Regions from separate parts of the Homo sapiens genome. Here region 2 is linked to region 1. The links come from fine-mapping of genetic effects on gene expression. A gene starts in region 1. The other region holds a variant in brackets. All regions are shown on one strand. Distances are from middle to middle. Region 1 holds the start of ENO3 (enolase 3). Region 2 holds the start of GP1BA (glycoprotein Ib platelet subunit alpha).

What was found.
Region 2: its variant is fine-mapped to the expression of ENO3 in whole blood (TOPMed, PIP 0.93).

Annotation. Positions count from the first base shown.
Region 1 is chr17:4,946,506-4,957,972 of GRCh38, forward strand. ENO3 (enolase 3) reads left to right here and starts at 4,614. Exons shown (of 12, transcript NM_053013.4): 1 at 4,614-4,677; 2 at 5,323-5,409; 3 at 6,290-6,385; 4 at 6,546-6,604; 5 at 6,767-6,836; 6 at 7,207-7,340; 7 at 8,570-8,792; 8 at 8,902-9,099; 9 at 9,437-9,638; 10 at 10,068-10,176; 11 at 10,326-10,384; 12 at 10,473-10,624. The coding sequence starts at 5,325. The coding sequence ends at 10,542. It overlaps PFN1 (profilin 1), which reads right to left and starts at 2,025. Exons shown (of 3, transcript NM_005022.4): 1 at 1,758-2,025; 2 at 123-315. The coding sequence starts at 1,889. RefSeq lists silencers at 1,295-1,524, 1,555-1,624, 1,895-2,234, 2,365-2,614, 3,075-3,484 and 1 more and enhancers at 2,815-2,984, 5,146-5,880.
Region 2 is chr17:4,915,769-4,932,342 of GRCh38, forward strand. GP1BA (glycoprotein Ib platelet subunit alpha) reads left to right here and starts at 16,509. Exons shown (of 2, transcript NM_000173.7): 1 at 16,509-16,574. The variant CCTCAGCCTCCCG/C (reference allele first, on the strand shown) is at 8,332.

The sequences.
Region 1 (11,467 bases):
CACAATACTGGTCTGACTCCCTTCATGTTGGGGAATCACACAAAAAAGCACCCTCAAGATTACCAGAAGGCGGTACATTAGAGATCTTGGAGCTAAAGGAAGGGTAAGACTCAGGAACTCACTCTTGTCAGTCTTGGTGACAGTGACATTGAAGGTGGGGGCCCCACCGGTGCTCTTGGTACGAAGATCCATGCTAAATTCCCCATCCTGCAGCAGTGAGTCCCGGATCACCGAACATTTCTGGCCCCCAAGTGTCAGCCCATTCACGTAAAAACTTGACCGGTCTTTGCCAACCAGGACACCCACCTCAGCTGGCTGGAAGAGGAACCAAGCGCCCATCAAGTTAGTCAGTGCACCAAGATTCCCACCGTGTTCTCCAAAGACCCACCTGTCTTCCACTTCTGAGAACCACCCCGCCGTGGGGGCTAAGTATAAATTATATACTCAGTACACATCAATGAACTGTGAGAAACTCTGAGGACTGTGGGACGTTAGTGCAGAAAAAGATCATGATTCTGAAACTTAGAATATGGAACCAGGGAGGAAGGGATGACATACTCCTCTAGAGATTTAGATGTCAGTGTTAATGGGGAAAGTAAACCCAGGAAATAAAGGGAGTCAGTGAGGTAAGTGAGGAGCCTTTGGATGCTCAGAACTCTCCTTCAGGAAAAGCAGAAGCGGAGAGGGGAAGGGAGGGGGGCGGGCGAGGCAAGAGAAGCAACTTTGCCCTTATTTGGTCAAAGGTTCTGCAGGAGCTGTTAGGGCCCGGACGCCTGGGTCTCCAAGTAACCTAGAGTTTAGCTCCAGGTATCTCTGCTCTGAGATGAGGAAGCAGACCCCTGGGGGCTTTCCGGGAAAGTTGGAAAACTTTTGAAGGTGGACAGGGGCCAGACCCGGCAGGCCAGCTCTCGGGTCTAGGTACCCCGGGAACCTTTCCCCCCTCCCCCTTTCACCCCAAGCCCCCACATCCGGTCCCCTCCCGCCCGGAAACCCCCTTCCCCCCCCTTTTGAACTTCCGCTCCCCCTCCCCACTTCCGGGCAGTGTGGACAGGGAGATGGTGGTGGGAGCAGCGGTAGTAAACCAATATACTTTCGCTTATGCTGTCTCAGAACTTCTCACAAAGTTCCCCTGCTCCAGGCCCCGCCGGATGGCGGGAAGGGAGGGCGAGGGGACTTCCGGGATTGGCCTCGCAGGAATGTTGAATCCAACGTGCTGAGCTGGGGGGGCGTGTGGTGGCCTCGCCCTCTCTAACGGAGTTAGGAGGGGCCAGAAGCCCACAGAGGGTGGGCAAGGGACCAAGACCACGCGCCTGGGGCTCCCTTCCGCACCAGGAGAAACAATGGTAGAGGGACGCGGGCTGGCAGCCGGACGGGGAGCTGGGGGTCCAAGGATCCCCGGGTCCCCTCTCAATCCCAATCCCCAGTAAAAACTGAGGCGCGTCCCCGCCCCGCCCTGGGAGAGGCGGAAGTGGGCCGCCGCACCGGGCGCCGCGCCCCTCCCCGCCCTGTGCCCCGGATGTAACGCCCCGTCGCGGAAAGCGGGGTAGCGGGCGGGATGGGCGCCGCCGCCTGGGGCATAGGACCTACGGGCAACTGAGGGACCCACTCACGTGCAGCCGCCATTCGCGCCGCTTCCAGGGCAAGCACCCAGTCAGGGCCTCTCGCTGCGCGCCCTAGACCGCGCCCGCCCCCACCCAAGTCCCTCCCTCAGGGTCCAAACCGGAGCAGTGCCCCGGACCGCGCAGGCCTCGCAGTACCGTGATGTTGACGAACGTTTTCCCGGGGACGGCGGCCCAGACGGAGGGCGAGTCCTTGTAGCCCACGATGGCCGCGTCCTGACAGGTCCCGTCCGCCATGAGGTTGTCGATGTAGGCGTTCCACCCGGCCATGGCGCTGCTACTGGGGCTGCTCTCGGCGCTGCTGCTGGGGCCGCGGACTGGGCTCGAGCTGCCTCGGCTGGCGGGCGGGGGGAGGCGGAGAGCTCGGGGCACGCGCTGCCGTCCGGACCGCGGCTCCGCTCGCTGTGCAGCAGCCCTCGCACCGCCACTTCCTGCTCCTCCCCCCCCCCGCCCCGCTAGATTTTTATTTGCAAAGGACGGTAGGGGCGGGGCCTACTCCCCATTCCCTCCCTCCCCCACTCGCCAGCCCAGACACCGAACTTTGCAAATGCAATTTTAAAAATCCCTCCCCCTATTGCAAAATTTGCAGAGTTCGATGGAAAGCAATGCAGAAGGATGGGGGGTGGCGGGAGAGAGGTGAAGGGTAGGGTTTGCTCCAATTTGCACTGAATATAAACCAGACTTTGGTATCGGGGCAGGGAGTGAGCCAGAAGAAGGAAGGAAGGAGAAAGCAGGAGGAATTAGCAAGCTGCAAATTTAGCAAATTAAGGAGAGTTCGGGGAGCCCAGGGTTAAACGGGATGACTCCTCCTTCCCCCACCTCCGCCGAAGGGAAGGACCGGCGGGCGGCGGCGCGTGTGCCCGCGCCTGCGCCTGCGCCGGGGCCGGGAGTGCATGGGGCGGTCGGGGCCGGAGCCGGCTGCACGGGAGCGCGCCCGGCCCGACCCGTGTGGACCCTGCGGGAAAGGAAGGCGGGCTGGGGACGTGTCTCCCGCCTGGCGGAAGGGGCGGGGGCGAAGCCGTGCGCGCTGCCGCCTCACCACCCTTGATTTTACTTATTCAAGTAATAAGAAAGCAAAGAAGAGTTTGGCCAAATCCTCTAGTCGCTCTCATAGCTGAAGGCACCCACCGGGGCCACTTCTGTCCCCAGCGTCTTCTCGGGTCGTGCAGGTTGGGTTCACCAGGGCCCATTCTCAGTCTAGAGGATTGTCCCTTCTCTGGATCGGCTCTAGCCCAGGGCCTCACCCCACATCCCAGCCCCGCCCGCCCCAGGCAGGCAATGTCTGGATCACCGGCCGTGCCCCTTGGCCTGTGTCTGCAGAGGTCACAGAGCGCGGACACCCGCGGGGCTTAACAGGCGGGGCTATTTTTCGAGGCGGAAGAATACTCAAGTTGCAAGAGTGGCAACTTTTTCAAGAAGGGGAAAGTCCCACTTCGGGCCCTTTGGGTTTCTTCGCAGTCAGATGTGCGCTCACAGCCACCTGGGGAGGGCGGGACGGGCGGGACGGCCGTGCGGCGGCCGCGGTGAAACCGCCTCCTCCGACCCGCCGCCGAGGGCTGGGCGGCTTCCGGAGCCTGGGCTAGGGGCAAGGGGTCACCGAGCGCGGCCCGGGCGGAAAGGGGGTTGGTTTTCTCTCTCCTCCCGAGCGCGGCGCGCATCCCTGGCGTCCACGCCGAATCCCACAGTCCCCGACGCCCCTCGAGTCCGTGTTCCTCGACAGCCGCGCGGCTGAGTCACTGGCGGGCTCGGGCGGGGCCGCACCCGGGCACGTGGCGGCGCTCCCCGCCCGCCATCTCCTGACCCCTGGCCCACCGCACCCCTACCCCAGGGTGGAAAAATCCCGGGAGGAGCGGCCTGAGATGAGGGGGCGGGGCGAGAGGGGAGACTGGACGGGTGGCGGGGCAGGTGGCCTGGGGTGGGGGCTGGGAGGCCGCGCGGGCCGGCGGGGCGGGGAGCAGGGGTGGGGAGAGGGCGGCGGGGGTGAGTCACCGGGCGCGCGCTGCCCCGGCGCCGACGGGAAGGGCCTCCGAGTCGGGCCGAGGCGCCGTGTGTCCCCCGCCGGTCGGCTGGTATGGCTGCAGAGGAGCTCGGGGCAGACCCCGCACTGGCCCCAGAGCCGGCAAAGTGGAGATCTCTACCGAGGGCAGAGACCTACCTCCCCGCAGTGCTACAAGTGGGGCGCCGGAAGAGCCCCAGGCGTGCAGAAGCTCACAAAAGGCCACCCGTCCTCGGTCCATTCATTTTTGTTCACTGTTGATTCAGCCCCATTCATTGATGGGCTGGGGCCGTGCGCTGAGCGCCCACAGTCGATGGGGAAAGGGGCTCTGACCGACAGTCCCCACGCCGGGCGACAAGTGCTGTCCCAGCGTTATCAGTCGGGCGCCTTGCCAGCCGAAAGGGCCTGTCTAAATTCGTTTCCTGTCCCCTAACTCATCCCGGCGCTGGCTGGCCTGGAGAGGGTAGGATGGGGCGGCGCCGAGAATGGCCGTTATGAGGACCCTAAGAGGTGAGACCCTCTCGCCTTCTGGGGTGGGGGGTCCCGTCCTTTCCCCCACTGAGGACAGAGGCCCGCCCAGCGATCTGAGCATGTGTGGACGTCAATCTTGCAGCCCCTCTTCCAGGCCCCCTCCCCAGCCTTGCAGGGCTCAGGTTACCCCTGGCCTTTCCTAAAGGTCACTCATTCCTCTTGACGTTTGCAAAAGGGGAATGTAATCCTGGGGTGGGGGGAGACCCCTCATCTGTAGCCCCTCCCTTGCTCCTCCCAAAGGGTGGAATTAGAACAGGGACTGTTATTGGGAGACAGAAAGTGGGGGATAGTAGTTGACCTTTGGTAAGGGGGCAGGTGCCCAGGGCCAGAGGCTTCTGCTTCAGGCTGTAGTGGGCACTTGGCTGCCAGCCCAGTGTGAAGGGGGGAGGATGGAGAGAAAGAGAGGCGGGGCTGGCTGGGGACCGAGTGGCTCAGGGATAAATGCGCAGCCTGAGAGGGGGTGAGCTGACACTGTCCCAGCTGCCACCTAGACTCGGAGCTCCATCCAAACCTCCAGCGAAGACATCCCAGGTCGGGTGAATCTTCCAGCCCTGGGGGTGGAGGTAGTAAAGGGTGAGCATGGTATTGGCTTGGAGGAAGTGGGGGACATTTCTGCTTTTTTTCCTCCTGGGACTGGAGATGCTTGAAAAAGCTGGGGGAAGGGGCGGCTGGAGCAAGCAGATGGGACAAACTCTGGGAACACCGAAGGATCTAGGGAAAGGAGGCTGTGAGGAGGGCAGCAGGGATGGATAGAAAAGGGCAGCTAGAGCTGGAACCTGATAGGGAATTGGGGGCCCAAGGAGATTTCGGAGCAGGAAAATGAGAACCAGAAAGGATTTGAAGGCCACCAGCCATGGAGAACAGACTGCTTGACCAGAGGGGTGGAAGGAGAAGGCCTAAGTGGAGGCTTGGGGGAGGTGGGGGCTTGGTGAGCGGTGGCATCCCAGGAGCTATAGATAAGAGGCCCCTGGATTCTTAGGATGGGAGGGTGGAATAAGAGCTGTTCTGAGTGGGGGAGGGGGCTGCGCCTGCCTCTTTGGTCTGTGACCTTTTTGTAGGGTATTTTTAGCTCCAGCACCTGCCTTCTTGGAGTGGGGAAGAATCTTAAAGGGCAAGGGATTTCTGGTTCCTTAAGAGATCAACTGTCTACACTCACTCACACCTCCTGTCCTGCAGCCATGGCCATGCAGAAAATCTTTGCCCGGGAAATCTTGGACTCCAGGGGCAACCCCACGGTGGAGGTGGACCTGCACACGGCCAAGGGTAACACAAGGCCCATTGGATAGGCTCGCCTCCGAAGACCCCAACCCTTTGGCCTTTGCCCCCCAGTTCTGTGCCATATCCTCTCCTTTCTCTCGGGTTCCCTTTCCCAGACTTCTTCCCAAGCCCCCTTCTTCCAACGTGGAACCAGAGCTGGAAGCTAGGAGAAGCAGGAGTCTCTCTCTGCACTGCCTCCTGTCCCTGAGCTCAGAGAGGACACCTCAGCCCTTTGAGAGGTAGAGAGACTCCCTGTGAGGTCCTTTTTTTTGTTTTGTTTTGTTTTGAGATGGAGTCTCGCTCTGTGGCCCGGGCTGGAGTGCAGTGGTGCAATCTCAGCTCACTGCAACCTCTGCCTCCCGGGTTTAAGTGATTCTTGTGCCTCAGCCTCCCAAGTAGCTGGGATTACAGGCCTGTGCCATCACGCCCAGCTAATTTTTTTTTTTTTTTTTTGAGATGGAGTCTCACTCTGTCGCCCAGGCTGGAGTGCAGTGGCGCGATCTAGGCTCACTGCAAGCTCCGCCTCCCGGGTTCACGCCATTCTCCTGCCTCAGCCTCCCGAGTAGCTGGGACTACAGCTAATTTTTTGTATTTTTAGTAGAGATGGGGTTTCACGGTGTCAGCCAGGATTGTCTCGATCTCCTGATCTCGTGATCCGCCCGCCTTGGCCTCCCAAAGTGCTGGGATTACAGGCGTGAGCCACCGCGCCCGGCCTCAGCTAATTTTTGTATTTTTAGCAGAGACGGTTTCGCCATGTTAGCCAGGCTGGTCTTGAACTCCTGATCTCAAGTGATCCACCTGCCTAGGCCTCTCAAAGTGCTGGGATTACAGGCATGGGCCACCGCGCCCAGCCATCCCTGTGATCTTCCAATTCCTCCTGTCCCAGGCCGATTCCGAGCAGCTGTGCCCAGTGGGGCTTCCACGGGTATCTATGAGGCTCTGGAACTAAGAGACGGAGACAAAGGCCGCTACCTGGGGAAAGGTGAGGAGACACCAGCGCAGAAGGAGCCTGTGTGGGCGGCTTTAGGACATGGGTGCACAATGGGTAGAGGACTGGAACCCCCAAGGCTCTTGAGGAGCTGGGGTCCACAGAAAGGGGCCCAGTTGATTGAGCTCCAAAACTCATCCTCTGGCCTGTCTAGGAGTCCTGAAGGCTGTGGAGAACATCAACAATACTCTGGGCCCTGCTCTGCTGCAAAAGGCAAGTGGGGAAGCCCGCTCGCTGCAGCCTCCTCCCCATGCCCCTGCTCCCTCAGCCCAGACAGGCCTCTCCCGAAACATTTTCCCTTATCCTTCCCCTGCATGTGCCCTGACTTCTGAGAAATCTGACCTCTGCTCTCCCTTCTCAAACTCACCCTTCCAGAAACTAAGCGTTGTGGATCAAGAAAAAGTTGACAAATTTATGATTGAGCTAGATGGGACCGAGAATAAGTGTGAGTGAAGGGCTAGCGGTGGGGAAGGGATGAGGTGTGGGAGAGATGGCGAGAGGCCATGGGGTGAGGCCTGATGGGTTATTTCTGGGTCCCCCATTTTGGGTCACACCGCAGCTGGATGGATTTGTGTTCATTCCACAGGCATTTCCTATGCCTGCCTTCTGCCAGGCCTGGGCCGGGCTGTGGACACAGACATGCAGCTGACACATTCCCCCGGGGTGGGGGTTCCCAGGGCTACTCAGGCTGTTGGGGAGAGATCTGTTAACCAATTCTTCATGCTCAGTGGTTTGGAGCTCTGGCGTCTTCCTGGAGTAGCCACCCCAAACCCTGCAGAAGCTCTCATCCTTTCTTCCCGCTTGCCTCCTTCCAGCCAAGTTTGGGGCCAATGCCATCCTGGGCGTGTCCTTGGCCGTGTGTAAGGCGGGAGCAGCTGAGAAGGGGGTCCCCCTGTACCGCCACATCGCAGATCTCGCTGGGAACCCTGACCTCATACTCCCAGTGCCAGTGAGTGCAGCTACCCGCCCTTCCCAGATCTCGCCTGGACAGAGCCAACCCCGCCCAGCCAGGGTTGGCCCCCCTGGAAAATCCACCTTTCAGACCAGCTCCTAAGAAGCAGTTTCCTGAAATTGAATCTCTCCTGCTGTGGTCCCACCCCTCCCTCTCTTCCACAATCCAAACCTTCCCTGAAGGCTCTATGTGCTTCCTTCCCTGCCATATAACCCAGTTCCTTCCCATTCCAATCCTAGGCTCGATAACTCCAGCCTCGTTCCAACCCCACACCCTACACCCAAATCATATTGAGAGTTTCTTTGAGGCAAAGATCTTGGCATTTCTTTGTATCTTCTTGAGTCCTTCTTAAACCAGTGCCTTCTTGATGAATGGAAACTCTTTGAATTTAATCTCAATAATAATGTTACCATTTCTTGTTACTTACTAGGAGGATTGCATAAGAGCATGGTCTCTAGAGATAGATTGCTGGGTTTGAATCCTGGCTCTGCCTGTTATTAGTTGTATGATTTTAGGCAAGTTCTTTAACTGCTCTGTCTCAGTTTCCCCATCTGTAAAATGGGGGGTAATAACGATACCAATGAATAGAGGTGTTTTGAGAATGAAATGGGCTAATACATGTAAAGTACTTAGTGCGTGGCATGTAGTAAGTGCTATATAAAAGTGTTAGCTATTATATACTAGGCACATGCTAAGAACTTTACATTCAATTTCTCTAATTTTCAGCAAAAGATCCTACAGGGAAGTAGGTGCTATCCCCATTTTACAGAAATGAGGAAAGAGAGGCTGGGCACAGTGGCTCACGCCTGTAATCCCAGCACTTCGGGAGGCCGAGGCGGGCAGATCACAAGGTCAGGAGTTCGAGACCAGCCTGACCAACATGGTGAAACCCCGTCTCTACTAAAAATACAAAAATTAGCCAGGCATGGTGGCACCCACCTATAGTCCCAGCTACTAGGGAGGCTAAGGCAGGAGAATCACTTGAACCCGGGAGGCGGAGGTTGCGCCATTGCACTCCAGCCTGGTGACAAAGTGAGACTCCGTCTCAAAAAAAAAAAAAAAAAAAGAAAGAAATGAGGAAAGAGGCTCTTGAGCAAAACTACTCATCCTAGACCACTGAGCTAGTAAGTAGGGAAGCCAGGTTTCCACCCCAACACCCCCCGCCCCTGTCCCTTCTTGAGCTCTCATGCCCCGGCCCAGGTCCAGACACCCTCTCCCCATCTCAGGCCTTCAATGTGATCAACGGGGGCTCCCATGCTGGAAACAAGCTGGCCATGCAGGAGTTCATGATTCTGCCTGTGGGAGCCAGCTCCTTCAAGGAAGCCATGCGCATTGGCGCCGAGGTCTACCACCACCTCAAGGGGGTCATCAAGGCCAAGTATGGGAAGGATGCCACCAATGTGGGTGATGAAGGTGGCTTCGCACCCAACATCCTGGAGAACAATGAGGGTCAGTGCTGAGCACCCTGGGGGGCAGACCCCCTGGATCTCCACATGGGCAGGGGAGGCTGCAGACAAGGGGCACTGGAGTCTCAGGTCCTTTCTTGGTCCTCCCCCAGCCCTGGAGCTGCTGAAGACGGCCATCCAGGCGGCTGGTTACCCAGACAAGGTGGTGATCGGCATGGATGTGGCAGCATCTGAGTTCTATCGCAATGGGAAGTACGATCTTGACTTCAAGTCGCCTGATGATCCCGCACGGCACATCACTGGGGAGAAGCTCGGAGAGCTGTATAAGAGCTTTATCAAGAACTATCCTGGTGAGGCGTTCGGGTGTCCCAGTGTTCCTGCCCGAATCCCGTGCAGCTGCCTAATATACTGATTTCAGTGACCTGCTTTGCCATCGACTTGGATCCTTCCAATTCTTAGCCCCATTAAAATCCCCATTTAAGCTCTTCTGCCCTGTCACCCCTCCATGAGGCTCCTTCTGACCTCTAGCCGTGTCTCTGCCCTGTCTCTGCCTTGTCTCTGCCCTGTCTCTGCTCTGTCTCTGCCCTGTCTCTGCCCTGTCTCTGCCCTGTCTCTGCTCTGTCTCTGCCCTGTCTCTGCCCTGTCTCTGCTCTGTCTCTGCCCTGTCTCTGCTCCAAACCCCACCAGTGGTCTCCATCGAAGACCCCTTTGACCAGGATGACTGGGCCACTTGGACCTCCTTCCTCTCGGGGGTGAACATCCAGATTGTGGGGGATGACTTGACAGTCACCAACCCCAAGAGGATTGCCCAGGCCGTTGAGAAGAAGGCCTGCAACTGTCTGCTGCTGAAGGTCAACCAGATCGGCTCGGTGACCGAATCGATCCAGGCGTGAGTGCCTCCTGACCCTGAGGCTCACCATAGCCTGCCTCTGCCCCAGCTCTGCCCACTCCAGCTACAGTCTTACCCACCAACTCCAAGCTTACCTTTCCCCTGGCACCTGACTTACCCACACCTTGATCTCAAGACTTTGTTTGACTAATCCTTGGCCTGACTCCAAGAGCTTTGCCCCTGTGGCTCTGTCATGACCCCCCACCCCCAGCCCACACCATTCCTCTCTCAGATTCCGCTGTTCTCAGCAGCATCTCAAGAGCCCGAAATCAAGATAAGTCTTTTCCTCTCCTACTTCCCAAAGAACTTAGTCACTGCCCTCCCTGCAGAGTGCTTGCTACCCAAAACAGAAGGGAGAGGCCCCACCCAACCCCTGCTTTCCCACTGAGGAGGTTCTAGAAGGCCACATCAAATGTCCTCTCCACTCAGGTGCAAACTGGCTCAGTCTAATGGCTGGGGGGTGATGGTGAGCCACCGCTCTGGGGAGACTGAGGACACATTCATTGCTGACCTTGTGGTGGGGCTCTGCACAGGACAGGTACTTGTAGCTTCTCTCTACTGAGTGTCTCACCAAGTTTTCTTGGGGTCCCTGGCCTCCTGCCTTTGAGGTTAATGCTCCCTTGGGGCCAGGTCCAACCCCTCCTTTCCAGCCTCACCTAACCCTCCAAATTCTTCTTCCCTCATCAGATCAAGACTGGCGCCCCCTGCCGCTCGGAGCGTCTGGCCAAATACAACCAACTCATGAGGTACAGCGGGAACAGTGGGCCTGGGCATTGGGGTGCTGGAGGCTGTTAGGTTGGAAGTTCAGCAGCCCTAACCTTGCCTGCATTCTAGGATCGAGGAGGCTCTTGGGGACAAGGCAATCTTTGCTGGACGCAAGTTCCGTAACCCGAAGGCCAAGTGAGAAGCTGGAGGCTCCAGGACTCCACTGGACAGACCCAGGTCTTCCAGACCTGCTTCCTGAAATAAACACTGGTGCCAACCAAGACAGCTGTGTGCTTCTTTGTGGGAGCTAGGGGATGCTGGTTTCTGGGCTGAGCTGGGGAAAACAGGAGGTGGCGAGATGGGGGCGGGGAGGGGAGGCAAATAGATATGTAACCTGCTAGGACAAAGAGGAGGTGAGGGACTCACAGAGGAAGCTGGGTGGTTCTAGAACAACAGAGGTGTTCACATTTCCAAAGGAGGTAGGGGAAGCAGATGCTATATGGTAAAATGAAGCTGCAGAGTTGCCAATGGAGCCGGGCATGGTGGCGCTCGCCTGTAGTCCCAGATACCTGGGAGGCTGAGTTGAGAGGATCGCTTGAGCCCAGGAGGTTGAGGCTGCAGTACACTATGTTCGTACCACTGCACTCCAGCCTGGGCTGCAGAGCAAGACCCTGTCTCAAAGCAACAACAACAAAAAAAAACAAAAACAAACAAAAAAACTAAATAAAGAGTTTCAGAGGGAATAAGAAACCAGCTCCAGGAGAGGGGAGCAGGGTGGGGACTGGGGTCCTGCCACCACCATGAAGGGGAAGCTGGCTGTGAAGTAAATGGTCTGCAGAGGATGCTAGAGTGAGGCTGCAGTCCTAGGGAGGGCTTTGTGAGGATGAGAGTGATAATGACAGTGGCTGCCTCTCCTATAGAACTTACAGGATCTTGGCAGGGCACAGTGGCTCACGCCTGTAATCCCAGCACTTTGGGAGGCCGAGGCGGGCGGATCACCTGAGGTCGGGAGTTCGGGACCAGCCTGACCAACATGGAGAAACCCCATCTCTACTAAAAAATACAAAAATTAGCCAGGCATGGTGGTGCATGCCTGTAATCCCAGTTACTCGGAGGCTGAGGCA
Region 2 (16,574 bases), 28 kb before region 1:
TAGGCTGAGGCAGGAGAACTGCTTGAACCGGGACCAGGGAGGCAGAGGTTGTGGTGAGCCACGATCAACGATCACGCCATTGCACTCCAGCCTAGGCAACAAGAGTGAAACTCTGTCTCAAAAAAAAAAAAAATTATCAGTGGATGCTGCAGGATATAGGCCAGAGATTGAGAAGGAACAAGATATTTACATAGTATCAAAGTATCTCTCCACGAAAGTGCTCCTTAGTTACAAAGTAAAAAAACAGAATCTCCACAGTGGAGAAACATGGCGGATGCCACCTTAACCAAAGGATCAAAGTTAACATCCCCATTAAGGGTGAAATTGATATAATGTGTTTCCTGATAGGACCCACCAAGAAAGATCGCTGGTGTAATATTCCTGCCAGAAAAACATAACCCAAATACAACCTTGTGGAAACATCTGACAAATTGAGGGAAACTCTACATAATTACTGGACTATAATTTTCAAAAATGTCAAATTTATGAAAAATAAAGACAGGTTAAGGAACTAAAGCAAATTAAAGTGATATGGCCCTGGATTGGATTCTGGACAGGAAAGAAAAAAAGCAAAAAACAACAACCGTCAAGGACATTTTAGGACAATTGGCTAAATGGGATTATGGACTGTAGATTGGATGTGAGTATTGTATCAATGTTATATTTCCTAAAATTAATAACTGCACTGTAGTATATAAGGAAATGTCTTTGTTTTAGGAAACACATACTGAAATATTTAGTGGTAAAGAAACATAATGTCTTCAGCTTGTTCTCAAATGGTTCCAGAAAAAAACACTCAAGAGGGAGAAAGACAATATGATCAAGCAAATGAGACAAAATGTTAACACATGGTGAATCTGGGAAGAGGGCATGCAGTTCTTTGTACTATTCTGGTATTTTTTTCTGTAAGTTTTAAATTATATAAAAATAAAATCTTAGCAAAAATGCTAATGTCTGGGACTCACATCGCCCCCCAGTTTCTTATTTTAATTTATTAATTCATTATTTTATTTTATTTTATTATTTATTTATTTTGAGGCAGTTGTCTTGCTCTGTCACCCAGACTGGACTGCAGTGGTGCAATCTCAGCTCACTGCAACCTCCGCCTCCCGGGCTCAAGTGATCCTCCCACCTCAGCCTCCCGAGTAGGTGGGACCACAGGCACCTGCTACCATACCTGGCTGATTTATTTTTGTTTTCATTTTTAGCAGAGATGAGGTCTTACTATGTTGCCCAGGCTGGTCTCAAGCCTCTGCAGTCAAGCAATCCTGTCTCAGCCCCCAAAGTGCTGGGATTACATCTATGAGCCACTGAGCCTGGCTATTATTTATAATGGGGGAAAAAAGTGGAAACAAGGCAAATGATCATAAACAGCAGAAAGGAAAACTGCCTTTTACTCATTAAATACAATAAAGCATTGCGAATGAATGAATTATAGCTGTGGGTACATCAATATGAATATGTCTTAGAAATATAATGTCTGGCCGGGTGCAGTGGCTCACACCTGTAATCCCAGCATTTCTAGAAGCTGAGGTGGGTGGATCACTTGAGGTTAGGAGTTTGAGACCAGCCTCGCCAACGTAGTGAAACCCCGTCTCTAGTAAAACACAAAAAAATTAGCTGGGCATGGTTGGGCGCGCCAGTTACTGGGGAGGCTGAGACAGGAGAATCGCTTGAACCCAAGAAGCTGAGGTTGCAGCGAGCCAAGATCACACCATTGCACTCCAGCCTAGGCAACTAATGTTAACTCAAAAGTGTTTAGGACACTGGGGAAAAAAATATCGTATTAAATGGTTGCTGCTCTTAGAAGTAGGCCCATCCTGCAGGTAGAGACCAAGTGGAATTGCCTCCTGGTGCCCTGTTCAGATTTGGTGTGGCCCTTCAGGCAAACAGGAAAGCCTGCCTGGAGAAGCCCCAGAGAGATGCCTGGGGTCTGGCTGCAAAGGAACCAAGGGTCTGGTGCTTTCCCATTTGCTAGTGAGAGGCAGGGTCTTGCTCATGATGTGGGAGGTCTGGAGCATAGGAAAAGGCCTTCGGGTGCTGAGCAGCTGAAAGGAGTGACAGATGTCATCCCAGAATCCCAGAAGACATGAGACTCACAAAGCAACAGTAAGCAAGGAAAGCAGCTAATGCATTGGTAAGTCTAAGAAAGCTCTAACTGATGTTTTAAAATGGAAGCAGTTGTGGGAGAATCAAGCCCAGGAGTTTAAGATCTGCCTGGATAACCTAGTGAGACCTCATCTCTACTAAAATTTTTTTTTTTTCTGAGATGGAGTCTCGCTCTTGTCACCCAGGCTAGAGTGCAATGGCACGATCTCGGCTCACTGCAACCTCCGCCTTCTGGGTTCAAGCGATTCTCCTGCCTCAGCCTCCCCAGTAGCTGGGATTACAGGCGCCTGCCACCACACCTGGCTAATTTTTGTATTTTTAGTAGAGATGGGGTTTCACCATGTTTGTCACGCTGGTCTCGAACTCCTGACCTCCCGTGATCTGCCTGCTTTAGCCTCCCAATGTGCTGGGATTACAGGCGTAAGCCACCCTGCCTGGCCTAAAAATTTTTAAATTAGCTGGATGTGGTGGTGGGCACCTCTAGTCCCAGATACTTAGGAAGCTGAGTTGGGAGGATTGCTTGATCCCAGGAGTTAGAGGTTGCAGTGAACTATGATCGCACCACTGCACTCCAGCCTGGGTGACAGAACGAGACCCTGTCTCAAAAAATAAATAAATAAGTAAACAAATACATAAAATACAATGGAAGTAGTAATCTATAATTTAAATTCTCGGTGATATCTCATGAAAGATGAAGGGGTAGGGATAGAAAACGAAACACATTCTAAGAACCTTGTCTTGTTTTGGGGGCAATCAATAGTTATTAATTCTAGATTTTGATAGAAAGTTACATTTAAATGTTATGTTAAAAATCAATGATTGCTAGCTGGGCATGGTGGCTTACACTTGTAATCCCAGCACTTTAAGAGGCCGAGGAGGGTGGATCACCTGAGGTCAGGAGTTCAGGGGCAGCTTGGCCAACATGGTGAAACCCTATCTCTACTAAAAATACAAAAATTACCCAGGCATGGTGGCACACACCTGTAGTCCCAGCTACTCGGGAGGCTGAGGCAGGAGAATCGCTTGAACCTGGGAGGAGGAGGTTGCAGTGAGCTGAGATTGCACCACTGCACACCAGCCTGGGCAAAGAGCGAGACTCTGTCTCAAAAATAAATAAATAAATAAATAAATAAATAAATAAAATAATTCTGCTACATGCTGTTTGCAAGAGACAACAAAAACAAGTTGGTAAAAAGCTGGAAAATTCCAGGCATGGTGGCTCATGCCTGTAATCCCAGCACTTTGGGAGGCCCAGGCAGGTGGATCACCTGAGGTTAGGAATTCGCGACCATCCTGGCCATCATGGTGAAACCCCATCTCTACTAAAAATACCAAAAAATTAGCCGGGCACCTGTAATCCCAGCTACTCAGGAGGCTGAAGCAGGAGAATCACCTGAACCCCGGGAGGCAGAGGTTGTGGTGAGCCGAGATCGTGCCATTGCACTCCAGCCTGGGTAACAAGAGTGAAACTCCGTCTCAAAAAAAAAAAAAAAAAAAAAAATCTGGAAAATAAGAGAATAAATTATGGCATAAAAATACTAATATAAAGAAAACAAATATAGCAATATTAATGCCAAACAAAAGAATTCAAAACAGAAAGCATTAAAAGGGACCAAGGGGGATATTTCATCTTTATAAAAGGTATAATATACCAAGAAGCTATCATGGTTGTAGCGGGCTGAATGATGGCCCCCCTCAAAAGATACATCCATATCCTAATCCCTGACATCTGTGAATGTTACCTTATTTGGAAAAAGGAACTTTGAGATGTAAATGAATTAAGGACCTGAGATAAGGAGATGATTCTAGATTATCCAAGAGGGCCCGAAAATCAATGACAAGTGTCCTTATAAGAGACAGGAGAGGAGAAGACACAGACACACAGAAGCGAAAGTGATATAAAGACACTAGCAGAGATTAGAATGATAAAGCTCCAAAAGCAAGGAAAGCGTTGGAATGCTGGCAGCTGCCAGACACTGGAAAAGGCAGGGGAGCATTCTCTCCTAGAGCCTCCGGGGGAAGTGTGGCCATGGGGACACCTCGATTTCAGACTTCTGGCCTCCAGAACTGTGAGAGGATACATTTTATTTTCGCAAGCCACTCGATTTGTGGTAATATGTTACAGCAGCCAGCAAGTTGACTAGCTAATAGTCATAGGCATTTGTCTATCTAAAAACATAGCTTTAAAATAAAGTAAAATTGTATGGAAATAAAGAATAAAGTGAACAATCCACAATTGGGGTGCTTGATTTTAACATACCTCGCCCAGAAATGGACAGATCAAGTACACAAAAAATAAGAAAAAGTATACAGGATTTGAGAGTATATATTATCTCAACAGGGAATACATATTATTTTAAAATGCACATAGAACATAAAGAGAATAACAAATTCCAGAGGCCGGGCTTGGTGGCTCGCTAATGTAATCCCAGCATTTTGAGAGGCCAAGGCAAGAGTGTTCCAGACCAGCCTGGGCAATATGGCGAAACCCCATTTCCACTAAAAATACAAAAATCAGCTTGGTGTGGTGGTATGTGCCTGCAGTCCCAGCTACTGGGCAGGCTGAGGTGGGAGGATTGCTCAAGCCTGGTAGGCGGAGGTTGTAGTGAGCCGTGATTGCACCACTGCACTCTAGCCTGGGTGACAGAGACAGATCCTGTCTCAAAAAAAAAAAAATTCCAGAAAGTGAAAATCATGGGTACTAGTCAGGGCACTCTACAAAAACAGAACCATAACCAGACATGGTAGCACGCGCCTGTAGTCCCAGCTACCCGGGTGGCTGAGGCAGGAGGATGGCTTGAGCCCAGGAGGTTGCAGTGAACCATGATCACGCCACTACACTCCACCCTGGGCAACAGAGTGAGACCCAATACAACCAATAGGATGTATACATACACACACAAACACACACAAACACACGACAAATATTTATTTTAAGGAATTGGCTGACATGATTCATGATTATGTGCGCTAGCAAGTCCAAAACCTTGACTAGGGAGTCAGCAAGCTAGAGACCAAGGGAACAGTTTACGTAATCCTGGGTCCAGAGGTAGTCAGTCTGGAGGCAGAATTCCTTCCTTCTCAAGGGAACCTCAGCCTTTCCTCCTAAGCCATTCAACTGGTTGGATGAGGCCCACCCACATTATGAAAGATAATCTGCTTTACTCCAAGCATACTGATTTAAAGGTTAATCACATCTGAAAATACCTTCACAGCAACATCTAGAATAGTGGGTTGTTTTTTCATTTTTCATTTTTGTTTTCTTTTCTTTTCTGTTTTTTGAGACAGACTCTTGCTCTGTTGCCCTGGCTGGAGAACAGTGGTGCAATCTCAGCTCACTGCAACCTCTACCTCCCAGGTTCAATCGATTCTCCTGCCTCAGCCTCCTGAATAGCTGAGATTACAGGAACCTGCCACCGTGTTTAGCTTTTGTGTTTTATGTATAATATCCAGGGTTTTGTTGTATTTAGCAGGTGGAATAGGTAAAAGAAAGTGTACTCCATCTTCCCATAAGCAGAAGTCTCTCAGATGGATTTTTTTTTAATATAAACTTTTTTTCTTTCTTTTTTTTTTTTAGAGGTGGGATCTTGCTCTGTTGCCCAGGCTGGTCTGGGATTCCTGGGCTCAAGCCGTCCTCCCACCATACCTGGCCTATTGTAAACTTTAAAATGTATTGCAGTTTACAATAAACATCCAAGGTATGATGTGATGGATAATTTTATGTGTCAACTTGGCCAGACTAATAGTAGTAGTCAGTTGTTTGGTCAAACACTAGTCTAGGCCAGTCGCAGTGGCTCACGCCTGTAATCCCAGCACTTGGGGAGGCAGGCGGATCACTTGAGGTCAGGAGTTCAAGACTAGCCTGGCCAACATGAGGAAACCCAATCTCTACCAAAAATACAAAAATTACCCAGGTGTAGTGGTGCACACCTGTAGTCCCAGCTACTTGGGAGGCTGAGGTGTTTGGATCACTTGAGCCCAGGAGGCGGAGGCTGCAGTGAGCTGTGATCACACCACTGCATTCCAACCTGGGTGAGAAAGCAAGACTCTGTCTCAAAAAAAAAAAAAAAAAAAAAAAACTACACGGAGCCAGGTGTGGTGGCTCACACTTGTAATCCCAGCACTTTGGGAAGCCGAGGCGGGTGGATCATTTGAGGTCAGGAGTTCAAAGACCAGCCTGGCCTACCCGGTGAAACCCTGTCTCTACTAAAAATTCAGGGCCGGTGCAGTGGCTCACTCCTGTAATCCCAGCACTTTGGGAGGCCGAGGCAGGCGGATCACCTGAAGTCGGGAGTTCGAGACCAGCCTGACCAACATGGAGAAACCCCGTCTCTACTAAAAATACAAAATTAGCCGGGTGTGGTGGCGCATGTCTGTAATCCCAGCTACTCAGGAGGCTGAGGCAGGAAAATTGCTTCAACCCGGGAGGCGGAGGTTGCAGTGAGCCGAGATTGTGCCATTGCACTCCAGTCTAAGCGACAGAGTGAGACTCTGTCTCAAAAAATAAATAAATAAAATAGAAAAACAAAACAAACAAACCCAACTCATTTCTTCCCTGAATTCTCCTCAAAAAAATAAATAATTTTTTTCTTTCTTTTCTTTTTTTTTTTTTTTTGAGACAGAGTTTCACTTTTGCCACCAAGGCTGGGGTGCAATGGCATGATCTCGGCTAACTGCACCCTCCACCTCCCTGGTTCAAGCAATTCTCCTGCCTCAGCCTCTGGAGTAGATGGGATTACAGGTGCCTGCCACCATGTCCGACTAATTTTTTTTTTTTTTTTTTTTGAGACAGGGAGACAGGGTCTGGCTCTGTCGTCCAGACTGGAGTGCAGTGACATGATCATGTTTCACTGCAGCCCTGGCCTCCTGGGCTAAAGCGATCCTCCTGCCTCAGTAGCTGAGACTACAAGAGTACACCACCAGGCTGGGTGCGGTGGCTCACGCCTGTAATCCCAGCACTTTGGGAGGCCGAGGTGGGCAGATCACGAGGTCAGGAAATCGAGACCATCCTGGCTAATATGGTGAAACCCCATCTCTACTAAAAACAAAACAAAAAAATTAGCTGGGCGTGGTGGCGGGCGCCTGTAGTCCCAGCTACTCGGGAGGCTGAGGCAGGAGAATGGCGTGAACCCAGGAGGTGGAGCTTGCAGTGAGCCAAGATCGCGCCATTGCACTCCAGCCTGGGCGACAGAGCAAGACTCCGTCTCAAAAAAAAAAAAAAAAAAAAAAGTACACCACCAAGTCCAGCTAATGTTTTCGTTTTTGTTTTTGGTAGAGATGAGGCCTCACTGTGTTACCCAGGCCAGTCTCAAACTCCTAAATTTAAGCAATCTTCGAGCTTTGGCCTCCCAAAGTGCAGGGATTACAAGCATGAGCCACCATCCCCAAGCTCTTTTCTGAAATGTTTATTTTAGTTTTGGTTCAGGGGGTACATGTACATATTTGTTAGATGAATATATTGCATCCTGGTGAGGACTGGGCTTCTAGTGTACCCATCACCCAAACAGTCAACACTGGACCCATTAGGTAATTTTTTTTTTTTTTTTTTTTGAGACGGAATCTTGCTCTATCGCCCAATCTGGAATGTAGTGGCCCGATTTCGGCTCACCAGAACCTCTGCCTCCTGGGTTCAAGCGATTCTCCTTCCTCAGCCTCCCGAGTAGCTGGGATTACAGGTGCCCACCACCAAGCCTGGCTAATTTTTGTATTTTTAGTAGAGACGGGGTTTCGCCATGTTGGCCCCGCTGGTCTCGAACTCCTGACCTCAGGTGATCCATCCGCTTCGGCCTCCTGGGATTACAGGCGTGAGCCACCGTGCCTGGCCCCATTAGGTAATTGTCCAATGCTCATTTCCCTCCCAAGCTCCCCTCTTTCAAAGCCCCTAATGTCTATTATTTCCATCTTTATGTCCATGTGTAACCATTGTTTAGTTCCCACTTATAGGTGAGAACATGTAGTGTTTGGTTTTCTGTTTCTGAGTTAGTTCACTTAGGATAATGGCCTCCAGCTCCATTCATGCTGCTGCAAAGGACATGATTTCATTATTTTTAGTGGCTGCATAGCATTTCATGGTGTGTGTTTGTGTGTGTATCACATTTTCTTTAATTAATTACTTTTTTTTTTTTTTGAGATGGAGTCTCACTCTGTCACCCGGGCTGCAGTGTAGTGGCACAATCTCAGCTCACTGCAACCTCCACCTCCTGGGTTCAAATGACTCTCCTG[CCTCAGCCTCCCG/C]AGTAGCTGGGATTACAGGCGCCTGCCACCACGCCCAGCTAATTTTTGTATTTTTAGTAGAGACAGGGTTTAACTATGTTGGCCAGGCTGGTCTCAAACTCCTGACCTCAAGTGATCTGCCCGCCTCGGCCTCCCAAAGTGCTGGGATTACAGGCGCAAGCCACCGTGCCTGGCCTAATTAATTAATTTTTAGAGACAGGGTTTCGCTCTGTCACCCAGGCTGGAGTGCAGTGGCATGATCATAGCTCACTGCAGCCTCCAGCACCTGGGCTCAAATGATCCTCCCACCCTGGCCCTGGCCTCCCAAAGTGCTGGGATTACAAGCTGGAGCCACCACATCTGACCTCACATTTTCTTTATCCAGTCAACTGTTGATGAACACATACCTTTTCTGATGATAGCTTCATCCGAAGGCCAGATCACATCATAATCACAGAATAATGCCAACAGCTGACAGCTCACCTGGAGTTACACATTTCCTCATCCACTTTCAGAGAAGGTTTGTATACCTTAACCATCAAACAAGAGTCTTGGGTTTCATCATGAAAGGACCAACTTACTTCCTATTTCTATCCCTGGGCCAATCACTATGACCATGAACACCCTAATCAGCTTATGTCAGGGTACTTGTTGGGTCCTTAAACTGTGTCAGAGAGGAGGCAGTCTATTAAGTGGCTTAGATCCACTCTCGCAGCTGAGAGTCAATGTCACCAAAAATTCTAGGGATGAGGTAGGAATAGTTTCTCAAAAGAAAAAAGAGTAAAAGTTGAATGGATTTTGGATACATCTCCAACTAATGTCTTCTGTACAAATTCTTTTTTTTTTTTTGTCTTAAGATGGAGTCTCATTGTGTCACCAGGCTGGAGTGCAATGGTGCAATCTTGGCTCACTGCAACCTCCGCCTCCCGGGTCCAAGTGATTCTCCTGCCTCAGCCTCCTGAGTAGCTGGGACTACAGGCGCCCGCCACCACTCCTGGCTAATTTTTTGTATTTTTAGTAGAGATAGGTTTCACCATGTTGGCCAGGATGCTCTCAATCTCTTGACCTCGTGATCCACCCACCTCGGCCTCCCAAAGTGCTGGGATTACAGGCATGAGCCACCACGCCCGGCATCTTCTATACAAATTCTTTTTTTTTTTTTTTTTTTTTTTTTTTTTTTGAGACGGAGTCTCGCTCTGTCGCCCAGGCGGGACTGCGGACTGCAGTGGCGCAATCTCGGCTCACTGCAAGCTCCGCTTCCCGGGTTCACGCCATTCTCCTGCCTCAGCCTCCCGAGTAGCTGGGACTACAGGCGCCCGCCACCGCGCCCGGCTAATTTTTTGTATTTTTAGTAGAGACGGGGTTTCACCTTGTTAGCCAGGATGGTCTCGATCTCCTGACCTCATGATCCACCCGCCTCGGCCTCCCAAAGTGCTGGGATTACAGGCGTGAGCCACCGCACCCGGCTACAAATTCTTTAGAAATGAACTATACTAGGGTGGGCGCATAGGCTCAGGCCTGTAATCCCAGCACTTTGGGAGGCTGAGGCAGGTGGATCACTTGAGTCCAGGAGTTCAAGACCAGCCTGTGCAACATGGCAAATTCCATCTCTACAAAAAAACAAAAACAAAAATTAACCAGACGTGGTGGCACATGCCTGCAGTCCCAGCTACTAGGCAGGCCAAGGTGGGAGAATCGCTTGAGCCTGGGAGGTGGAGGTTGCAGTGAGCCACAATCATGCCACTCCACTGCACTCCCGTCTGGGCTCTGGGTAACAGGATGAGACCCTATCTCAAAAAAAAAAAAAAAAAAAAAAAAAAAAAGAGAGAGCGAAAGAAAGAAAAAGAAAGGAAGGAAGGAAAAATAAATGAACTACACTAGAGAACTGGATTAGGGGCCAGGTGCGGTGGCTCCCACCTGTCATCCCAGCACTTTGGGAGGCCAAGGTGGGCAGATCACCTGAGGTCAGGAGTTCAAGACCAGCCTGGCCAACATGGTGAAACCCCGTCTCTACAAAAATACAAAAATTAGCTGGGCGTGGTGGCGTGTGCCTGTAATCCCAGCTACTCGGGAGGCTAAAGCAGGATAATCGCTTGAACCCGGGAGGCAGAGGTTGCAGTGAGCAGGAGGTTTCAGTGAGCCGAGATTGTGCCACTGCACTCCAGCCTGGGCGACAGAGTGAGACTGTCTCAACAACAACAAAAACAAGAACTGGATTAGGTTTCTTCAAATGCATGTAATAGAAATCTACTCTAGCTAACCTAATCCAACAGAAATTTTTTTGGAAAGAGATACAGGAGCTCACTGGACGCAAGAGAACACTGACAACACAGGATAGCTCAGGAATCAGCTAACTTTGGGGACCTTAGTAGCAGGAACTTCCCTACAGCTTTTCCTGAACACTTTGCTGAAATGAATGAAGACCAGTTCTGCATCCTCGTACCACCTTATTCACCACGTGAAATCCTAGGAGGAGTACACTTGTCCGTGATTAGGTCACACCCCTGGGCTAGGCTCAGGTAATAAGGCAACCGTCCAATGGGTTCACCTTGCCCGCTGCCTAGACAGAGCCGATTTATCATGATGGGGGAATTGCGATAGAGAAAGAGGAATTCACACAGAGCCGACTGTGTGGGAGGCCAGAGTTTTACTGTTACTCAAATCAGTCTCCCTGAGCATTCAGGGATTGGAATTTTTAAGAACAACTTGGTGGGTGGGGGAAAGCCAGTGAGCCGGGAGTGCTGATTGATCAGGTCAGAGATGAAAATATGGGAAGCTGAAGCTGTCCTCTTGTGCTGAGTCAGTTCCTGGGTGGGGGCCACAAGATCAGATGAGCCAGTTTATTGATCTGGGTGGCGCCAGCTGATCCATCAAGTGCAGGGTCGGCAAAACGTCTCAAGCACTGATCTTACGGGCAGTCCAGGGAGGGTCAGAATCCTGTAGCCTCCAGCTGCATGACTCCTAAACCGTAATTTCTTTCTTTTTTTTTTTTTTTTTTTTTGAGACAGTCTTGCTCGGTCGGCCAGGCTGGAGTGCAGTGGCGCGGTCTCGGCTCACTGAAACCTCCGCCTCCCGGGTTCACGCCATTTTCCTGCCTCAGCCTCCGGAGCAGCTGGGATTACAGGTGGGAGCCACCACACCCGGCTAATTTTTGTATCTTTAGTGGAGATGGGGTTTCACCACGTTGGTCAGGCTGGTCTCAAACTCCTGACCTCAGGTGACCTGCCCACCTCGGCCTCCCAAAGTGCTGGGATTACAGGCGTGAGCCACTGCGCCCGGACTCCTAAACCATAATTGGTAATCTCTTGGCTAGTTTGTTAGTACTACAAAGGCAGTCTAGTTCTCAGGCAAGAAGTAGGTTTGTTTTGGGAAAGGGCTATTACCGTCTTTGTTTTAAACTATAAACTCTAGGCCGGGTGTGATGGCTCACGCCTGTAACTATAAACAATAAACTAAGTTCCTCTCAAAGTTAGTTCAGCCTATGCTCAGGAAGGAACAAGCACAGCTTAAAGCTTAGAAGCAAGATGGAGTTGCTTAGGTTAGATCTCTTTCACTGTCTCAGTCATAATTTTGCAAAGGTGGCTTCAATAACAGGAAGAATATTAGGGAAGGAACTTATTTATTTATTTATTTTATTTTGAGACAGGGTCTCACCCTGTCACCCAGGCCGGAGTGCAGTGCTGCAATCATGGCTTTCTGCAGCCTCGACCTCCCGGGCTCAAACAGTCCTCCTACCTCAGCCTTTTGAGTGGCTGGGAGGTGGAGAGAGGAGGACTGCTTGAGCCCAGAAGTTCAAGACCAGCCTGGGTAACATAGTGAGACCCTGTCTCTACAAAAAATTTAAAACAATAGCTGGGCATAGTGGCACATGCCTGAGGTCCCAGCTACTCAGGAGACTGAGGTGGGAAGATCGCTTGAGCCTGGGAGGTTGAGGCTGCAGTGAGCCATGATGGCACCACTGTATTCCACCTGGGTGACAAAGTGAGACCCTGTCTCAAATCACACCAAACCAAGCACACAAAAAAACACAAAAACCTATCTCCGAAGTGGCACCACATCCAGATGGTTTTTTTTTTTTTTTTTTGAGACGGAGTCTTGCTCTGTCGCCCAGGCTGGAGTGCAGTGGCACGATCTCGGCTCACTGCAAGCTCTGCCTCCTGGGTTCATGCCATTCTCCTGCCTCAGCCTCCCAAGTAGCTGGGACTACAGGCGCCCGCCACCACGCCCAGCTAATTTTTTTGGTATTTTTTAGTAGAGATGGGGTTTCACCGTGTTAGCCAGGATGGTCTCGATCTCCTGACCTCATGATCCGCCCGCCTCAGCCTCCCAAAGTGCTGGGATTACAGGCGTGAGCCACCGTGCCCAGCCTCCAGATGGGTTTATAGGTGAACTCCACCAATCTATGTAGAACAGAAAATCCCTATCTATAACTGTTCCAGAGAATATAGTTTTCCAATTTATTTTACAAGGCTAGCATAAACTCTGATCATAAAACCAAACAAACAGAAAAACAGACAAAGATCCCCAAAAGAGATCTATAAGCCACTCCTATTTTCTAACTTAGAGGCAAAAGTCCTAAATAAAATATGAGCAGGCTGGACGCAGTGGCTCATGCCGGTAATCCCAGCACTTTGGGAGGTCGAAGCAGGCTGATCACCTGAGGTCGGAAGATCAAGACCAGCCTGATCAACATGGAGAAATCCAGTCTCCACTAAAAATACAAAATTAGTTGGGCGTGGTGGTGTATGCCTGTAATCCCAGCTACTTGGGAGGCTGAGGCAGGAGAATCACATGAACCCAGGAGGCGGAGGTCGCCATGAGCCGAGATCACTCCATTGAACTCCAGCCTGGGCAACAAGAGCGAAAAAAGAGATCAAGACCATCCTGGCCAACATGGTGAAATGCCCTCTCTACTAAAAATACGAAAATTAGCCCGGCGTGGTGGTGTGCACCTGTGATCCCAGCTGCTCGGGAGGCTGAGGCGGGAGGATCGCATGAGCAGGTTGCAGTGAGCGGAGATGGCGCCGCCGCGCTCCAGCCTGGGTGAGGGTCAAAAAGAAAAAAAAAAATCAACAGCCTCTGGGCTCGGGGTCCTTATTCAATTTCATGGCTTCTCTCCAGACAAACTCCCACCTCACTTTCTATACTACCTCGTCTTCCCCACATTTTCCAATACCTTTGCAGCGGGCAAATTATATAAATGGCAAATCTATGGATTAACTGCATCTGGCTTAAGTGTCTATCCCTTGTCCGGTCACCAGCTGGAAGCAGATAGGGGCAGGCTCAGGCGGCTGCATGGAGCTCCTACTGGGGAACAGTGCAGGGCCACATTCTCATCACAGAAGGGGCAGTGGACCAACAGGCAGGGCATGGTGTCTGACTTTCTGTAATAGACATTTAACCTGGTCTTCGGAAGTCAGAAAAGGCTTTCCAGAGGAAGGAATTCTGAGCTGGAACTTGCCAAATAAGTAAAAGTTAGGCAGAAGGGGATAAGGGTTGAAGAAAAAGTTCAGGCACAGGAGAGAATGATCAAGAGTAAGGGCAGAGTGGGAACAGATGGGGCTGGACAGGCAGGCAAAGGGGAGACCTTGCAGGACCCTGCAGGCCATGTTGGGAACTTTAGACTTTCTCCTGAGATCTATGAGGAGCCATTGGTGAATTTATTTATTTATTTAGAGACAGAATTTCGCTCTTTCGCCCAGGCTGGAGTGAGGGGGTGTGATCTCAGCTCACTGCAACCTATGCCCCCTGGGGCTCAAGCTGTTCTCCTGCCTCAGCCTCCCTAGTAGCTGGGATTACAGGTGCCGGCCACCACGTCTGGCTAATTTTTTGTATATTTAGTAGAGATGGGTTTTCACCATGTTGGCCAGGCTGGTCTCAAACCCCTGACCTCAGGTGATCCACCCGCCTCGGCCTCCCAAACTGCTAGGATTACAGGTGTGAGCCACTGTGCCTGGCCCATTGGTGGATTTCAAGCAGTGGAAGGATATGAGCAAATGTGCAGTTCTGAAAGACCACTCCAGTGGAGAATAAAGAGAAGAAAGGGAATTGGGAAGTTGGGAGACCAGCAAGGAGGCTGTTGCAGGGAAGCAGTAGCGAGAAGATGGTGCCCTGGGCAGGGCATGGTGGCTCACGCCTGTACTCCTAGCACTTTGGGAGGCCGAGGTGGGAGGATCGCTTGAGCCCAGGAGTTTGAGACCAGCCTAGGCAACAAACAAATGTTTTTCTGTCTCTAGAAAAAAATTTTTAAATCAGCCAGGTGTGGTGGTGCATGCCTGTAGTCCCAACTCCTTGGGAGGCTGAAGCAGGAGGATCCCTTGGGTCCAGGAGTTTGTCCTTGAGTGAGGCATGATTGCGCCACTGCACTCCAGCCTGGGAGACAGAGCAAAGGAGACCAGCCTGGACAACATGGTAAAACCCCGTCTCTACTAAAGATATGAAAAATTAGCCGGGCATGATGGCGGGTGCCTGTAATCCCAGCTACTCAGGAGGCTGAGGCAGGAGAATTGCTTGAACCCAGGAGGCAGAGGTGGCAGTGAGCCGAGATGGAGCCATTGCACTCCAGCCTGGGAGACAGGGCAAGACTCCATCTCAAAAAAAAAAAAAAAAAAAAAGAAGAAGAAGAAGAAAGGAGGAAGAGGAGGAAGAAGAAGAGGAGGAGGAGGATATGAACAAGAAACAACAACAACCTTGGACTAGGAATGCTGGCAGGATGGTGTGGATGGAGAGTAGATTTGAGAGAGACGGGAGATAAAATCACCAGGACTTGGTGATGGGGATGAAAGACGGGAGACGTTAGAGATGACTATTAGGGATTTTGTTTGTGTTGACTGAATGGTTAGGTAAATGAGTGGATGATGGTGCCACTCACCAGGCTGAGCAACACAGGAGGAGAAGCCATTTGGAGAGAGATGGTGAGTTCAGCTTTGAACATATTGTTTTGGTGTCTGTGGGACATCCAAGTAGAGATGTCCAGAAGGCAGCTGGACATATGTGCTTGTGTCTCAGGAGAAGGGTCTGGACTAGAGACATAGATTTGAGAGTCATTAGGTTGTAGGTGGTGGTTGAAGGCAAGGGAATGGATGAGGATAATCTCAGGTGGTTGCATAGCGTAAGAAAAGAAGAGAATGCCGGGCGCGGTGGCTCATGCCTCTAATCCCAGCACTTCGGGAAGCCAATGTGGGTGGATCACTTGAGATGAGGAGTTCGAGACCAGGCTGACCAACATGGTGAAACCCCGTCTCTACTAAAAATATAAAAATTAGCTGGGAATGAAGACAGCCTAAGCACAAACTCTGGGGGCAGTTTAATTGTTCAAGAAGGGGAATCTATGAAGGAGACTGAGAAGGCCCAACCAAACAGGTAAGAAGAAAACCAAGAAAATTACAGGGTCATGTGTCACAGAGGCCAAAAGGAGAATCCCAAGGGGCGAGTGGCCATGGGTATGCAGGCTGCCGAAATAAAGTAAGATCACAGTGGAGAAGTTTCCCATGGATGTAGAGGAGGGAGAGCATTAAAGACCTTGGTAAGAACCGAGTCAATGGAGTAGCAGGGGAAAGAAATCAGCATAGACTGGGGTGAGAAGGCAGAGAGAAAGGTGGGAGAGAATTAAAAGTAGGCAACTCTCAGAATGCAGCTGTGAAGAGGAAGAGAAGCGGGCATCTGGAGAGGTTTTTTTGTTTTTAAGATGGAGTTTTGCTCTTGTCACCCAGGCTGGAGTACAATGGCACGATCTCGGCTCACCGCAACCTCTTTCCACCTCCCGGTTTCAAGCGATTCTCCTGCCTCAGCCTCCCGAGTAGCTGGGATTACAGGCATGCGCCACCACGCCTGGCTAATGTATTTTTAGTAGAGACAGGGTTTCCCCGTGTTGGTCAGGCTGGTCTCGAACTCCTGACTTCAGGTGATCCGCCCGCCTCAGCCTCCCAAAGTTCTGGGATTACAGGCATGAGCCACGCGCCCGGCCCTGGAGAGGTTTTTAAAAGATGGCAGAAGGCTGTTTGGAGGAGTCCACCCCCATCTCCCCTGTGTAAAAGGAAAGCGGAAGAGAGAACCACAAAGAGGGCCTGGGGGAAAGCCGTGGAGTGAGGCGATAAGGGCTTGTGTCCAGGGGATTCCCGGTCACTGGAATCCCTATCAGGCCTGCATTTCCTCCTCACCCCCATCCCCTTCCTTGCCACTGGCTTAGTCCTCCATGGGGCTAGAAGAGAGAAGGACGGAGTCGAGTGGCACCCTAGAAGACGCTCTGTGCC